Regions from separate parts of the Homo sapiens genome. Here regions 1 and 2 are each linked to region 3. Evidence: fine-mapped expression QTL. A gene starts in region 3. Each other region holds a variant in brackets. All regions are shown on one strand. Distances are from middle to middle.

What was found. PIP is the estimated chance that this variant, and not a neighbour inherited with it, causes the effect. A credible set is the group of variants that fine-mapping cannot tell apart.
Region 1: its variant is the best candidate, but not a certain one, in a credible set for the expression of CCDC146 in tibial nerve (GTEx, PIP 0.72).
Region 2: its variant is the best candidate, but not a certain one, in a credible set for the expression of CCDC146 in whole blood (INTERVAL, PIP 0.64).

What each region holds. Positions count from the first base shown.
Region 1 is chr7:76,933,293-76,938,526 of GRCh38, reverse strand. No RefSeq gene overlaps it. Among named protein-coding and RNA genes, the nearest start is that of SPDYE17, 96 kb to the left of the region's middle. The variant C/T (reference allele first, on the strand shown) is at 2,739.
Region 2 is chr7:77,096,884-77,102,117 of GRCh38, reverse strand. It overlaps the pseudogene FAM185BP. Among named protein-coding and RNA genes, the nearest start is that of CCDC146, 23 kb to the left of the region's middle. The variant C/T (reference allele first, on the strand shown) is at 2,380.
Region 3 is chr7:77,119,937-77,125,170 of GRCh38, reverse strand. It overlaps CCDC146 (coiled-coil domain containing 146), which reads right to left and starts at 2,556. Exons shown (of 19, transcript NM_020879.3): 1 at 2,439-2,556. It also overlaps the pseudogene FAM185BP. RefSeq lists a silencer at 2,771-2,870 and enhancers at 2,766-3,265, 3,266-3,767.

The sequences.
Region 1 (5,234 bases), 190 kb after region 3:
ATTTGTAGTTTATTGATTTTATTTTGTACATTTAAAAATACTAATCTGTGAAGGGGTTCATAGGCTTCTACAGACTGCCAAAGAAGTCCATGGCACAAAAAGTTATGAACCCTTTATCAATGACTATTCCAAAGAATGTTGATTTTGTTCCTGGGGATGTCAGAGACTGATTTCTCCAGTGACTATAAAGTATCATTTTACAGTCACATTCATTTATCATCACATTCATTTATCAAATAATTTGATAAATACTTGGTGAGTTTCCACTGCAAGTTAGATACTGAACTGTGTCCTTGGGATACATCAGTGAACCAAACAAAAATCTCAACCTTTGTGGAGTTTACATACTGGCGGGGAAGGCAGATGATAACACAAAAGATACATAGATTATGTAATAGGTCCAAAGCTAGAAAGGAAAGGTGCCAGGAAGGCTTTTGTTGCCATTTTAAAGGTGGGGTGCCAGGAAGGATTTTGCTGCCATTTTAAATTGAGTGGTCAGAGCAGGTCTCATGTACAGACTTGCCTATATAGGTGAGCAAGCCCGGAAGTCTCCAGATGGAATTTCCCAGGCAAAGGAAACAACTCAAAGCTCAGAGGAGGGATCATGTTTACTATGTTCAAGAAATAGCCAGAAAGACTGCGTGGCTGGAGCAGAGTAGGATGAGGAAGAAAAGAAGAAGGGAAGATCAGAGAACTAATGGAGGGAGGAGGAGAGTACACAGAGGTCTTTAAAGGCCATATAAGAACTTGGACTTTTACCCTGAGGTAGGCGAAGAATTTAGACACTTGCATTTCTTTTTGGGAAAGAAATGCCGTGATCTGACTTATGTTTCAAAAGGATCACTTATGTTTCTTTGTGGGCAATAGAATGGAAGGAGGCAAGGGTGGGAATAGGAAAACAGTTATAAGACGATTGCTAAAATGTAGCAAGTCTGACGAAAGTGATAGCCATGGAGGCGGTGAGGAGTAATTGGTCTCTGAATTATGTTTAGGGTAAACACAGGAAGACTTCCTGGTGAATCGGATGTGCAGTGGGGGGAGTAATAAAGAGAGGAAACAAGGGTGACTCAAAGATTTTTGACCTAAGCACTAGAGGGGTGAATTTTTCATCTACTGAGATGGAAAGCTTTGAGCAGCTCAGATATTTGGGAGAAGATCAGGAGTCACTCTTGAAAAGTTTGAATGATCTAAATGAGAGACTTTGAATATAGTTTTGGAGTCTGAGGCAAAGGAGCATCCAGGGCTGGAGATGTAAATTTGGCAACAAAGGGCATACAGAGGGAGACTGGATGAGATCCCCAAAGGAAGGAGAGTGGATAAAAAAAGAAACTACAATCTGGGGCAAGTCAGTCCAGGACTAAGAGGTATAAGCAAAGATAAATCATTCACAAAGTTCTGAGACTAGCAACCAGTGAATTAGAAAGCCTTACAAGCCAAAAAAAAAAAAAAAAAAAAAAAGTATCAAGGAGTGGTGTCATCTCTGTCAAGGGGCGTAAAATGTGAGAGGACCAAATGTGAGCCATGAGATTTAGCAACCTGAAGTTTATCTGAGACCTCAGTAAGAGCAATTTTGTTGAGAGTTAAGACCTGATTTCAGTGGGTCTGTGAGAGAATGAGAGGAGAGGAACTGGATAGAATTAATACAGACCCCCTTTCTAAATGTTTTTCTGCAAAGGCAAAGAGAAATGGAGTCATACCTGGTAGGGAGAGAGGGTCCAGTAAAAGGTTTTATTTCTGTTTTTTCTTGTTTTTGTTGGCTTAGTTTTTTTGCTTTTTAAGATAAATGAGTAACAATCTTTTGTGCTGAGGAGGATGACTCAAAAAGTGGAAAGAGTTGACAAGGTAAGAGATGGGAGAAGACATGCAGGGATGCCCTTGAGTGGGCCGCAGGGCTTGGAATCTGGTGCACATGTGAAGAGATTGGCTCTAGAAAGACCACAGACAATTCACCTTTCAAAACAGCAAGAAAAGCACAGTGAGTACACGTGCTTGTGGGAGGGTGAGCAGGTGCAGTAGTGAGAGACTGGGGAAATTCTCTTTTAATTGTTTCACCTCTGTCAGTGAAGGAGAAAAAAAGATTGTGCATTGAGAATGAACATGAGGGAGCAGGTGCTGGAGATTTAAAAGGGAGGTGAGAAAGGACAGTTGATTGGGAAAGAGATAGAATAGTGGCTCTCAAAGGCAGTCTCCAGATCAGCAGCATTGGTATCACCTGAAGACTTGTTAGTAATGCAAAAATCTCAGGCCTTACTTCCAGCTTGATGAATCAGGAACTCTGAGGTAGGCGCAGCAGTCTGTGTCTTAGCAAGCCTTGCAGGGATTCTGATGCACGCTGAAGTTTGAGTGTCACTGGAATGGATGGTGTCTATATGATTGCTGGGTCACTCCGCCTATCCTGAATGTCAAGAACATGCCAAGTGAGACCAGCCAGTATATTGTAGCTCTTTCTCCAGCCACAACCAGGTATTTCTTATGGGATGGGCAGAGAGTTGGATGTACAGGTTTTGATCATTGGTTTATAAGAGATAAATGGATCTGAACAATTACAATAATAGAGAATGTGATGGACTGAGTTGTGCTCCCCCCAACTCATATGTTAAAGTGATAACCCTCAATACTATAGAACGTGACTGCATTTGGATGTAGGACCTTTATGGAAGCAATTAAGGTTAAATGAGGTCATTAAAGTGGGCCCTAATCCAATAGGACTGGTGTCCTTGTAAGAAGAGATTAGGAAG[C/T]AGACAGGTACAGAGGGAAGATCATATGAAGACAAAGGAAAAAAACAAGCCAGATAGAGAAGTCTCAGAAGACGCCACCTTGATCTTGGACTTCTAGCCTCTAAAAATGTGAGAAAATAAATTTCTGTTGAATAAGCCACCCAATCGGTGGTACTTTGTTAAGGCAGCCCCAGTGAATGAATACAAACATACCAGAAAAAGGTTAAAAGGTCTGACTTCACTGGGTAGATTAGTACCTTGGCCAGCCACATGCTCTAAGTCCCTCTGTGCCCTTCTGTGAAGGGGGATGATGATAATGATAGCATCTACTCAAGAGCTGATATGGTTAGGGTTTGTGTCAACACCCACATCTCCTCTTGAATTGTAATCCCCAGATGTTTAGAGAGAGACCTGGTGGGAAGTGATTGGGTTATAGATATGGTTTCCCCATGTGTTCTTGTGATAGTGAGCAAATTCTCATGAGATCTGATAGTTTTATAAATGGTAGTTTTTCCTGCACTGACATACACGCTGTCTCTTTTCTTCCACCATGGGAAGAAAGTCTTTGCTTCCTCTTCGCCTTCCGCCATGATTGTAAGTTTCCTGAAGCCTCTCCAGCTGTGCAAAACTGTGAGTCAATTAAACCTCTTTCCTTTATAAATTACCCGGTTTTGGGCAGTTCTTTACAGCAGTGCGAAAACGGACTCATACAGGAGTTATTGTGGAGATTCAGTGAGGCAATGCATGGAAAGCCTCAGCTCAGTCCTGACCCATGATAGGGCCTCAAAAATGTCGGCATGAAAATGGCCACTACCTCAAAAGAGCATATGTGCTTGGTCAGGATGGCTCTCCCTTGTGAATCCACATTTAGAGCCGAAATTGCCAAGTCCCTGGGGGAATTGAGCTCTGCAGCTGGCAATTTGAGGCATGTGTTCCTGAGCCCCATGGCAGTGACCTTTTATCCTTCTTGGGAATTGATTTCTGAAGCAGCCCTAAAGGCCACAAAGCAGGGTTGGGACTCCTGGATTGATTTTCTATGTTGACATAGCAGGCCAAGCCCTGTCTGGTTTATAAACTGATGTTGTATTATTTCTAAGTCTCTTATAAAACTGAGCCAGGAAAATCATTCTTACAGAATTATTGAGTTTTCTCTTGTGTAGTTTGGGGAGCTGTGGAGGCAGGGGATGAGGGGTAGGGAGGAGACTAAGCAATTTCTTTTCTCCTCCCAATTTTGTATTTAGCCATTTCAAAGTGTCATCACACTGAGAAAATACTTGTTAATTGGCAATATGATAGTTTCTTATATAAGACCCAATCTAGGCTAGGGATGCTATTTACTGTGATTATCACTTCCAAGTGTGGTGCTTTGTTGTATATTTCCTCCACAAGCAGTTATTTGTTGGTAATGGATTTCTGTAAGCCAAATTATATCCTCCCTTTAAGGATCATTTTGACTGTGTATCTACAACACCCTTTTCAGAAAGGGCTAATTATTATTGACAGGGATGATAGAGAGACAAATTCTTCCTGTTCTGGGCAATTGAATAACCTCTTGTCCCAGTTTACTTCGTGCAGATTTGTCATTGAACTAGCATCCTTGAATTGTGTTTAAACTACAATAAAAATAAATGTGGGAAGTCTCAGTTTATGTAAAGGGCAGTACTCCCACAATCTCAAAGCTTTTTCAAAATTCTGCAAGTGTGCTGTTTGTGGATTCCACAGACTTTGTTCATAGAGTCACTCTGTATAAAGTAACCATCTGCAAGTGCCTTTTGTCCCATTAAATCAGAGAAACAAACTGGTGGTTTATAGTTGAATCAGTTCTACATACTTAAGAGCTTGGTCTATTTACTAGAGTTTTAGTGTTTTTCATTAGTGACCTTGATTTAATAAGGATCTCAACCTAATGTCTTTATGTTTGTTCAAAATTTTTTCTAAGACAATATTGGACTTTAAATTTTATTTATGATGTTTTCTGTGCTGAGTGCTATGTTTCATGTTCACAAATCTACTCATATTTTTATATATAAAGTGAAAATTTACATTGTTTTACCCTGTCTTTCCAAAAGCTAATAGTTATTCCTATATCCTTCTATTTGTCACTGATTTGAAAGGTCTCTTTTGTTATGTGGTACTTTCTTACATATGCTAAGTAATCTATATCAGATATCTGTTTAGTTCCATGATTTGTAGGTCTGTTCTCTTATCAATACCATTCTAATTGAATGATTGGAATCTTATAGTGTATTTTCATGTATGTCAAGGATAGTCCTCATCTATTACTCTTTGTTATCAAAATATTTAATTGTTTTCTGAATGGTTTATTATTCCAAATAAAAATTTTAACATTGCAATGACAAAGACAATACTCTTTAAGTATGAAATTTAGCAGGTAATGGAAAGATATCTGATAAAAGGTAATAGCTGTCTTGATTTTTCAGTCACACCTTCAAATCAAACACTGTTAATAATTTGGTGAGTGTACTGCCAGATCTTTTTCTATACATTTGCATATAC
Region 2 (5,234 bases), 23 kb after region 3:
AGTAGAACTCAAACATTCAAGAAGAATGTTATCTGAGACTCTATAGGTCCCACTATAATTAACTAATCCTCATTTTGTATAGATCTAAAACTTCTATTTTTCTGGTTCAAAGAATCATTGTTTTCTCAAGACCTCCTCACTTTCATGACAAGCACTAATGATTGGCTTTTTGAGAAAGACCATATTTTTATTTTAAAAAAATTGTAAATTTTTACTGCATTATTAAAGACTAGTGTAAAACTATAAAGCTCCATTGCCTTGATGAGTGGGTGACTGGATTCACTAGCTAAATGACTGTAAAACTTTATCATAGTTCTTTATTAATAAAGTTACGAATATCAGGGACCTGTCTATCTTTTATTGTTCAGGAGGTAGAGCAGTGTCTTAGTCTGTTTTCTGTTGCTACAACAGAATACCTGAGATTGAGTGATTTATAAAGCTTATATATTACAGTTCTGGAGGCTGAGAAGTCTGAGGTCTAGGAGCCGCATCTGGTGAGAGCCTTCTTGCGGATAGGGGCTCTGCAGAGTCATGAAGTGGCACAGGCCTCACATGGAGAGAGGCTGCATGAGAGACACCCACACTGGCTCTTATAACAGACTCACTCTTGTAATAGCTAACCCACTCCCTCTATGACCCATTAATCCATTGATTCATGAATGGGTTAATCCATTCATGAGGGTAGAGCCCTCATGACCCAATTACCTCCCAAAGGTCCCACCTCACAGTATTGCTGCACTGGGGACTAAGTTTCCAACACATGAACTTTTGTGGGAACGTTCAAACCACAACAAGCAGTAAAGAGAATGCTGAGAATGGAAACACCCACTGTCTCACACTAGGTGAATCTCCTTAAAGCATGGTTTTCTTGTATTTTTATCCATCTTGAAATTCTTCACTAACTTTTTTGGTGTAGGATAGTCAGTAGACTTAGCACTCTGTGGTTCTACCACAGGTTGCTCTTTACCTACTTTTCCAAACTTTTTATTTGTTCACAAAATAATTGTGTTTACTATGTACTATGCACTGTGCAAAGTTCCCAGGTATGAAGCTAAATAAGAAAGATGTGATTCCTGTCCTCCTAGACTTGCCTCATTGGGATCTAATTAAATGAAAGAGCTTCTGCACTGCAAAAGAAATTATGAACAGAGTAAATAGACAACCTACAGAATGGGAGAAAATATTTGCAAACTCTGTATCTGACAAAGGTTTAATATCCTTTGTTCCTTTGAATCTTCAAGGAAGTTAAACAAATCAATAAGCAAAAAACTAATAACCCTATTAAAAATGAGCAAAAGACAGGACATTTTGCTCATTTCTCAAGAGAAGACGTACAAGAAACCAACAAACATGAAAAACTGCTCCAAATCACTAGTCATCAGAGAAATGCAAATCAAAACCACAATGAGATATCATCTCACACCAGTCAGAATGGCTATTATTAAAAATAAGTAAAAAAACAGCAGACGCTGGCGAGGCTGTGGAGAAAGGGGAACACTCATACACTGTTGGTGGGAATGTAAATTAGTTCAGCCACTGTGGAAAGCAGTTTGAAGATTTCTCAAAGAACTTAAAACAGAACCACCATTCAACCCAGCAATTCCATTACTGGATATATACACAAAAGAAAATAAATCATTCTTCCAAAAAGACACATGCACTCAACATATTCACTGAAGCTCTATTCACAATAGCAAAGACATGGAATCAACCTATGTGCCCATCAGTGGTGGACTGGATAAAGAGAATGTGGTACATATACACCATGGAATACTATGCGGCCATAAAGAAGAATGAAATTATATCCTTTGCAGCAGCATGGATGCGGTTGGAAGCCATTATCCTAAGCGAATTAACACAGGAATAGAAAATCAAATACCACATGTTCTTACCTATAAGTGGGGGGTAAACATTGGATAATTATGGACATAAAGATGGCAACAATAGAAACTGGAGTCTACTAGATGGGGGATGGAGGGACGGGGCAAGGGTTGAAAAACTATTGGGTACTATGCTTAGTACCTGGGTGATGGGATCATTTGTACCCCAGACTTCAACATCACACAATATACCCAGGTAACAAACCTGCACATGTATCCCCTGAATCTAAAATATGAAAAAAAAAATTAGTAATCTTATAAGCTTCAGTACACAAACCAAGTTTTTATTCATACACAAATATACTCCTTGTTCATATACTCACAGGAAATATGATGGTATATTAGACCTTCAGATGGATTTTTGCAATTAGGCGCATCTGGCTATTGAGTAAATGAATCCAGTGCCTTTTTTTGGTTTTTCCCAGATACTGATACAAGTCAGTATTCATAAGGTATATGAAATGAGATAAAATGAGTTTACTGAAGATTAATTCTGAGG[C/T]CAAAGTTATTCCTTTACTTTTTAGTGTAGTTTTGGAATTATTTTAGAAGAGATAACATTATTGCTTATATTTTCAGTAGAATAAATATGAGTTCCTGATTCTAGGAATACTTACACGTACAAACACACATATGAAGAATAATCCTACTACTTTTGGTATTAGGGGAAAGGGGCTGGGAAGAATGGTTGCAATATTCCATACTTATCATGGAAAACATATTTTCACTAAGACGGAAATCTTTGAAGCTTCTTTGTTCTGTTTTGCTAGTCATACCTCCATGTATTCATTATTCCTATCTCAAACCACTTTAATTCTTGGCCCAGAAACTACTTTTAATTTAATAGACATGGCAAGTGGCCTGAAAAATAAAAGTAATTCTTTTTTTCCATACCATATTTTAGTGTTACTTGGTTGAAAACTTCGCTTTGTGTGGTCTGATAAATACATTGATATTTAGGTTGAAAATGTACAGTGACTACATTTCAGTAATTTTTTTCACTTACAGGTTTTAGAAGTATTGTTTTTCCTCTGTGCCAGCAGTTATGGTGATTTGTAGTTATGCTATAAAAGCTTAAGGTTTGGTAGTAGAGAAAGAAGGTTTGCAGAGATACCTAAGCCAGTTATTTCAGAACTACAGCTCAATCTTTGACTGGACTTGTGATATTGGGAAAAATTGCCAACAAAAATAACATTGTAGATATTCATCCATGTTTTAGCATTGCTATGTATCACAGTTCCTTTCTAGATTGTCTCTAGTACATAAAAGTATCTTTTTCTTTTTGGCAGGTAATATAACATTACAAAGCGAGATGGGTAACATCACAGTAGGTACGTACTAAGCTACTAGTTCGTGTATTTTGTCCACTTTTAAAAATGGGTATATTTGTGATGACTTTATTAGAATAAATGAATTCTACAGTTTAACTGATGAACTTGACAGGATCACAAGTCAAATATAGGCAGAACCAATGTACTAATTATGTCCACTCGAAGAAAATTGCCTGAGCTGGTATTAAGAAATGTCTTATATTTCTTGCTAAACTTCTCTGAAGAAAAAAAAAAGAAAGAAAAAAAGATCTTACAAATTTCTTGAATTCTTCAAATATCTAAATTAAGTCCTTGAAAGAAAGATATAAATAATGTCACTGTTTATTGGGCTCCAAATGTGTTAACATTTGAAGACAACCTTGTGAATACCAATAACTAGTTAGTCAACATGTATTTATTGAGTACCTGCCATGTATTAAGAATTCTTTTAGGTACTAGGGAACATATTGGTCAACAGGACATAGTTTCTGTGCTCAGAGACTTCACCTTCTCTGAGCCCTGGGAAGAAAGACAACAAGCATATAAATAACAAAAGGTAATTTTAGTTTGTGGTAAGTACAATGAAGAAATAAGAAAGGGTAACTGAATAGAGATTGGGGAAAAAGAAAGCTACTTCAGTTAGGCAATTGGGGGTGGTCTGGAGAGGGTACATTTAAACCAAAGCCAGAAAAATGAGAAAGAGTTATATAAAATTCTGGATACAGGCTCCCTAGATAGAGGAACAGCAAGTGCAGGCCTTGAAAATGGAAGTTTACTATTTTCAAGGGAAAGAAGGCTGGCTTATGAGGAAAGTGGTAGGATATGAGGTAAGTAAGGCTAGATCTTAGGACCTTGTAGACAGGGTAAGAGTTCAGACTTTATTCCAACTACAACAGGATGTTAGGGAAGTGATATATAATTTATATTTTAAAAGAACAATCTAGCTGTTATTTCATAATGTACCAGAAGGGTTCAGAAGTGAAAGCAGGCTATTAGAAGGCTTAATTTGTTCATTCTACTGTTGATGGACACCTGGGCTATTTCTAATTTTTTGGCAACTGTAAATAAAGCTGCTATGAATATATTAATGTAAGTCATTTTATGGATGTATATATATTTTTCCTCTTGGGTAAATACTTAGGTATGGCATTGCTGAGTTGACTAGGTAGGTTCTATGTTTAACTTTATGATAAACTACCAGACCTTTTCCCAGAGTTCCACTTTATACTCTCATCAACAATGTATGAGAATTTCAGTTGCTCCACATCCTCATCAACATTTATTATTGTCAGTTTTAAAATTTTTTTATATCATCATTTGTTGAAAAAACTTCCTTTCTCTGATGGATTACTTTAGCATCCTTGTCTAAAATCAAATGACTATATAAGTGTGGCTCAATGTCTGATCTCTTGTTCCTAATTCATTGATTTATTTGGTGAGCCTTATGCCAGTGCCACAATATCATGATTACTGTAACTTTGGTAAGTCTGTAAATCAGGTAGTTGAAGTCTTCCAAATTTGTTCCTTTTAAGGATTACTTTGGATATAATAGGTCCTTTGATTTTCCAGTCAGTTTCTACCAAAAAATACAGTTTTGATTATGTTTGGGATTGCACTGAATCACATTGTATCTTCCAATTAATGAACATGGTAGGTAGCTCTCTCCATTTATTTAGGTCTTCTTTAATTTTTCTCAGCATTGCTTTGTAAGTTTCAATGTAGAGGTCTGGCACATTTTTTTGTTAAATTCATTTGTGTTTTTAACACTGTTATAAATGAGACAGTTTTTAAGACTTTGCTTCTAATTGTCTACTGCTGATATATGTAAATACAAATGATTTTTATAAATGGACCTTGTATCTTGTGACCTTGCTAAATTTATTCTAATAGCGGTTTTCTCAAATCTAGAATCCTTTTCTAGCTGAGCAGACATTTTCAACTGCAAATAGAGTTTTACCTCTTTCCCTCCTATCTTTATTACTTTTCTTTTTCTTGCCTTATCAGACTAGCTATGAACTTCAGTATAATGTTGAATGTAGTGATGAGA
Region 3 (5,234 bases):
CCAGGCTGGAGTGCAGTGGTGTGATCTCGGCTCACTGCAACCTCTACCTCCTGTGTTTAAGTGATTCTCCTGTCTCAGCCTCCTGAGTAGCTGGGATTACAGGTGTCCATCACTACGCCAAGCTAATTTTTTTAATTTTTAGTAGAGATGGAGTTTCACCATGTTGGCCAGGCTGGTCCTGAACTCCTGACCTCAGGTGATCCACCTGTCTCAGCCTCCCAAAGTGCTGAAATTACAGGCATGAGCCACTGCACCTGGCCAGGGAGCATTTAAATTGATGCAATTATTTTCTCTTACAAGTAACCCTATAAAACATAATTCCTTGAGCATCCCTAATTTTATGCTTACATCCCCAAAAGCACAATTTCTGAGTCATAGAAAAAGCTTTTCATTCTTATTGCTGAATTGAACTCTAAAAATTTTGTGCTAACTTAACACTCCTACCAGAAGTATATGTTCATGACCACAGAAATAGCTTTTTTAAACTAAGATGTGAAAATATCTTAGAAACAAACTCTAAATAAGGAGAAAAAAGTTGTATATAATTTTCTACTTATGAGGTGAATAATTTCATTTTTTCTTCAAAGGTGTCAGGAAAATGGACGTTTTGGTAGAGTGATAAAAGGGCCAGACCTTCTAATTGCTTAATCTTAATGTTTCTGAATCTGTTTCCCCATCTATAGTGTGAGGAGAATAATTTCCCTCCTAATTAGTGAGGATACAGTGAGATGACGCATGTGAACATGGTTTGACAATTATAATGTCATATGGATGGAAGATACAACTTTTATTAATCATTGTTGATATGTGGACAGATTTGATACTCATTATACTGTTTTTAAGTGTCTATAACTTTAACTATTTTATACCAATCTTAATATTAATAATTTTCTCCATTTTCAACCTTGTATGATCAGCAAAGTAAATTTTCAGTCAATTCTATTTGGTTTTTGTTTGAAAAAGTAAAATAATGATTATGCAACATAGAAAATTATAGTTCAGTTGCCAATTCCATTAACTTAGTTTGTCTCAGAAACGGAAAAATTACCATAGACACAGAATTAACTATTAAGAATTAATATTTAATCTAAAAATGTCTAGTGTTTCTACAGAAAATTTGAGTACATTCTCAACTTCCTTAAACCAGTGCCTTTTTCAAATTTCTTTTCAAAGTTACACCTGTCAATTTTCATAAAAAATAGTTTGAAGATTATTCTGAATAATTATAACCAATGAAACACAAAGACAAGAAAAGAACTATTGCAGTGGGCCCTTGCTGAACCTGAGCTAGCACCTATAATGAGTGAGTCTTCACCGAAAGAAGAATAAGGAGGGAGCAAGGACTAGAAGGACAGAAAAGAGGCAATGATAACTTAAGAGAACACTGAATTTTTAAAAATTTTAAAAAGGTAGTGGCTAGCAGAGAACCTGAGACTTGTACCCATGAGAACTTTAGCCCAGTCTATCTATCACGATAGCCCCAAGAATTCTGGTCATTGTACTTGGGTAAGGGCTTCAATTTTTTAAGGCACTTGCATTTTATGAAATGTTAGTGTTTGCAGGTGTCTTGGCTAAATAATTTAGGGAATACATTTTAGGAGGAAGTAGGGGCACAGAGGGGGAGAGAGAAACCAGGCAGGAAAGAAGAAAAAAAGAAGAAAATAAATCTTTCTGTTCCCATTATTTTACTGCCCATAGAATTATAAAAGGTAAACACACACACACACACACACACACACACACACACACACACACACACACACACACCTTATAGGGTCATTTAGAACCATCTTTCTTCATTTTAAAACTAAAGAAACAGGTCTAGGTGACACAGATGAAGCAGTGGCAGAGCCAGGAAAATAATCTGACCCTTGTCCCTGCTCTTTCCACCGCACCATGGTGACTCTCTTTTTTGTGTCTTTTTTTTTTTCACTCTAAAACTGATGATCATTTGTAGTCAAAGAGATCAATGCTATTCTCAAAACAAGTTCTGATCTCTCATAATTTTCTTGGTAACTCAGAATCAATGTTAAGTACGTTGAAATAAAAATACAGTACTTTACACGGTAATTTGGTAGACTGTGCACCACGGTCCCATCCATTTTCTTACTTGATCCTCACAAAAACCCTTTGAGGCAAGGCAAGGAAGGTATTATCATCTACATTTTTAAAGTGAGCAAATTAAAACCCAAAGTAAGGTCACTTAGGGTCAGGACGGAGCAAGTACTCTATTCCTATATTTGGAATATAGGAGGGAATACACTTCCAAAGAGGCAATTCCCTCAAAAAGCACCAATCTTGCTCTTTACTCTCTTACCAAGGCATTCTCCATGCCCTGGAGATGCCCGCACTAGGTTAGTGAAGCTTGGATCTTGACATCCACATAGGTTACTCCTAGTTTGCACCTAGTTGTCAACTTAAAAAGCGCAGTTTCTTACCCCTTCCCTTGGTCCTGATCCTTATTTAGGCTCCTATTTTTCTCTTTGGGATTTGGCCTCCTGGGTCTCACTCCAAAGCTCCACCCTCTCCAAACAAGAAGTCGCGTCCTTGGTATCCAAGGTGACCATGCAGCTTTACCCTCGTTGCCCCCTTCCGTGCTTCCCATTGGCCAGTGGCCTCCCATGTACCGCCCCTCCAATAGCCAATGGTCTTGAAACAAAGGGCGCCCGCCTTTCCAGCGATTCTAACACCTGCCCTCTTACCCGTGCTCCCCTGCGCATTGCCTCCTGGGATATGTGGTTTCTAAGAGGCGGAGCTCTGCGACTTTCCACCGCTTTAGAACTACGTATCCCGTCGGCCTTAGCGAAAGGGGGTGGACTTAGGCAAGGGGTCCAGGTCAGAGTTCAGAGCTTTCAAATCCCAACTTGCCCCTGGGGATTACGCAGCTGATGTTTACATCGCCTAGTCAAGCCAACCGGCTCGCTCTTGTTTCAGCAAACCCTGACTTACGTCTCCTATTTGACTTGAGGCGGCACAGTGGCCAAGTCGATTGGCCGTGGCAAGTGACCCTCCCTGTGGCTGAAGTGTTCTGAGGACTGGCGAGAGAGGCGCGCCATGCTTGCCCCCTGTTCAGGTTGGGAGCTTGGCTGCTTCCGTCTCTGTCTCCGTCAGGTCCGACTGTGGGCTGGCGCTGGGCGCTGGTCTTGCTGGGCTTGCCAAGCCAGGCCGTACAGCTCAGGTAGGGGCGAGCGCTGGCCCGGATCGGAGACTGAGGTCCCTCCGCCTGGCCCGGCGCGCCGAACTCTGAAGGAGTGGACACTGCAGGTGAGCCCGTTCGGTCGGCTGCGGGCGCGGCTCCCGTGCCACCTGGCCGTGAGGCCCCTGGACCCCCTCACCTACCCGGATGGCGACCGCGTGCTGGTCGCGGTGTGCGGCGTGGAGGGCGGCGTGCGGGGCCTGGACGGCCTGCAGGTGAAGTACGACGAGGATCTGGAGGAGATGGCCATTGTGTCTGATACTATCCACCCCCAGGCGTCCGTGGAGGTGAACGCGCCCCTGAAGTTTGGCAAGTGAAGTGAAGTGAAAACGGGTTTGGGTCCCAGGGAACGCACAGTGAACTTAATAAATTTGGTCGACGTGCACTTTTAATTGGTCCTGGCTTTCTAAACCTAATTTACAGTTGGCCCCTTCGGAAATGCAACTTTTCCTCTGTTCTATTCTTGAGTATCCGAGTAGTATTTAAAAAATTAGGTTCCCAATTATAGAAATTTTATACATCGAATGGAAACACGATTTGGTATAATCCAGGTCAAATTCTATTTCTGGAGCCGCTTGTGTTCTTCTTTATCCCGTTGTCATTAGCAAACTGGCTTATTTTTCAAGGTTGAAGTTTCTTGACAATTCATTCAATGGTATGGCAGTCCATCTACATTTCCCCTTGCTCACAGCCTGGGGGTGTGTCCCAAAACAGCCCTGTCAATAGGATGTTCCAGGTACCACCTGGTTTGAGTATTTGGTTTTAGACGGGCGCCCAGCTTCTTACTGTTATGTTTCCATTCTTTTTGGCCTAAGTTTTCCATGAGTAGCAAGCTTTGAAGAAAAACACATGGTAAGCCTGCCTAGGAAGCTTCAATAATAATGCCTGCAAGATACCTTTCTTAGGTTTTCCTAAATGGCAAGCCACTGTGTACACACACTTTTCTAGGAAGGGCTCCCCAGACTGTCATTCTTCCTGGGACTGAAGGAAGATATTGATGATGATGATGATGGTAATAATAATAGCATTTAGCATTTTTAAGATCATCTTTTATAATGCTTACAGTTGCCCAAATAGTAGATGCCGTAGTCCTCCCTTATCCACCGTTTGGCTGTCTGAGTTTGTTACCTGCCTCAACTGTTGTAGGAAAATATTAAGATATTTTGACAGATCACAGTAATATAACTTTTATTACAGTATATTGTTATAATTGCTGTATTTATTATTATTGTTGTTCATCTCTTACTATGCCTAGTTTATAAATTAAACTTGATCATTGATATGTATACAGGAAAAAACATAGAATATATAGGATTTGGTACTATTTGTGGTTTCAGGAATCAAGTCGGGGGGGCGGGTCTTGCCTACTTTAAGAGAAATCATCAATATTTATGTTAATTCCAAATTAAATATCAGCGTTTTTAATTTTTAAAATTTGTATACAGCGATGCCTGCAGTTACATCTTAAATAGACAGCCAAGGATGGCATTTGTAATTCCTTATTTTCCAAACTTGCTTCATGTACCACTGCCATTTGTCCACAATCTTGTGGGGTTTTTTGTTTGTTTGTTTTGGTTTTTTTTGAGACTGCATCTCACTCACTCTGCCATGCAGGCTGGAGTACAGGTGCACAATCATGGCCCACTGCAGTCTTGACTTCACGGTTTTAAGCAATCTTCTCGCCTCCGCCTCCTGAGTAGCTGGGACTACAGGTGCATGCTACCATGCCTGGCTAATGTTTTTGTTTTTTTGTAGAAAGGGAGTTTTGCCACATTGTCCAGGCTGGTCTTGAACTCCTGGGCTTCAAGCAATCCTCCTTCCTCGGCCTCCCAAAGTGCTGGTATTACAGGCATGAGCCACGGCTCATGGCCTAATCTTGTAGTTTTAATAGTATATATTAGGTTTTTCAAAGTTGTTCCCATTTTTAAAAAATTACTTCAAATACCTTGTGATATAGTTGCATGGTAATATTTTCATTTTTTAAGTATGAAAGGTTAGACATAGGATTTGAAAACCTAAGTCATGATCATATATACTG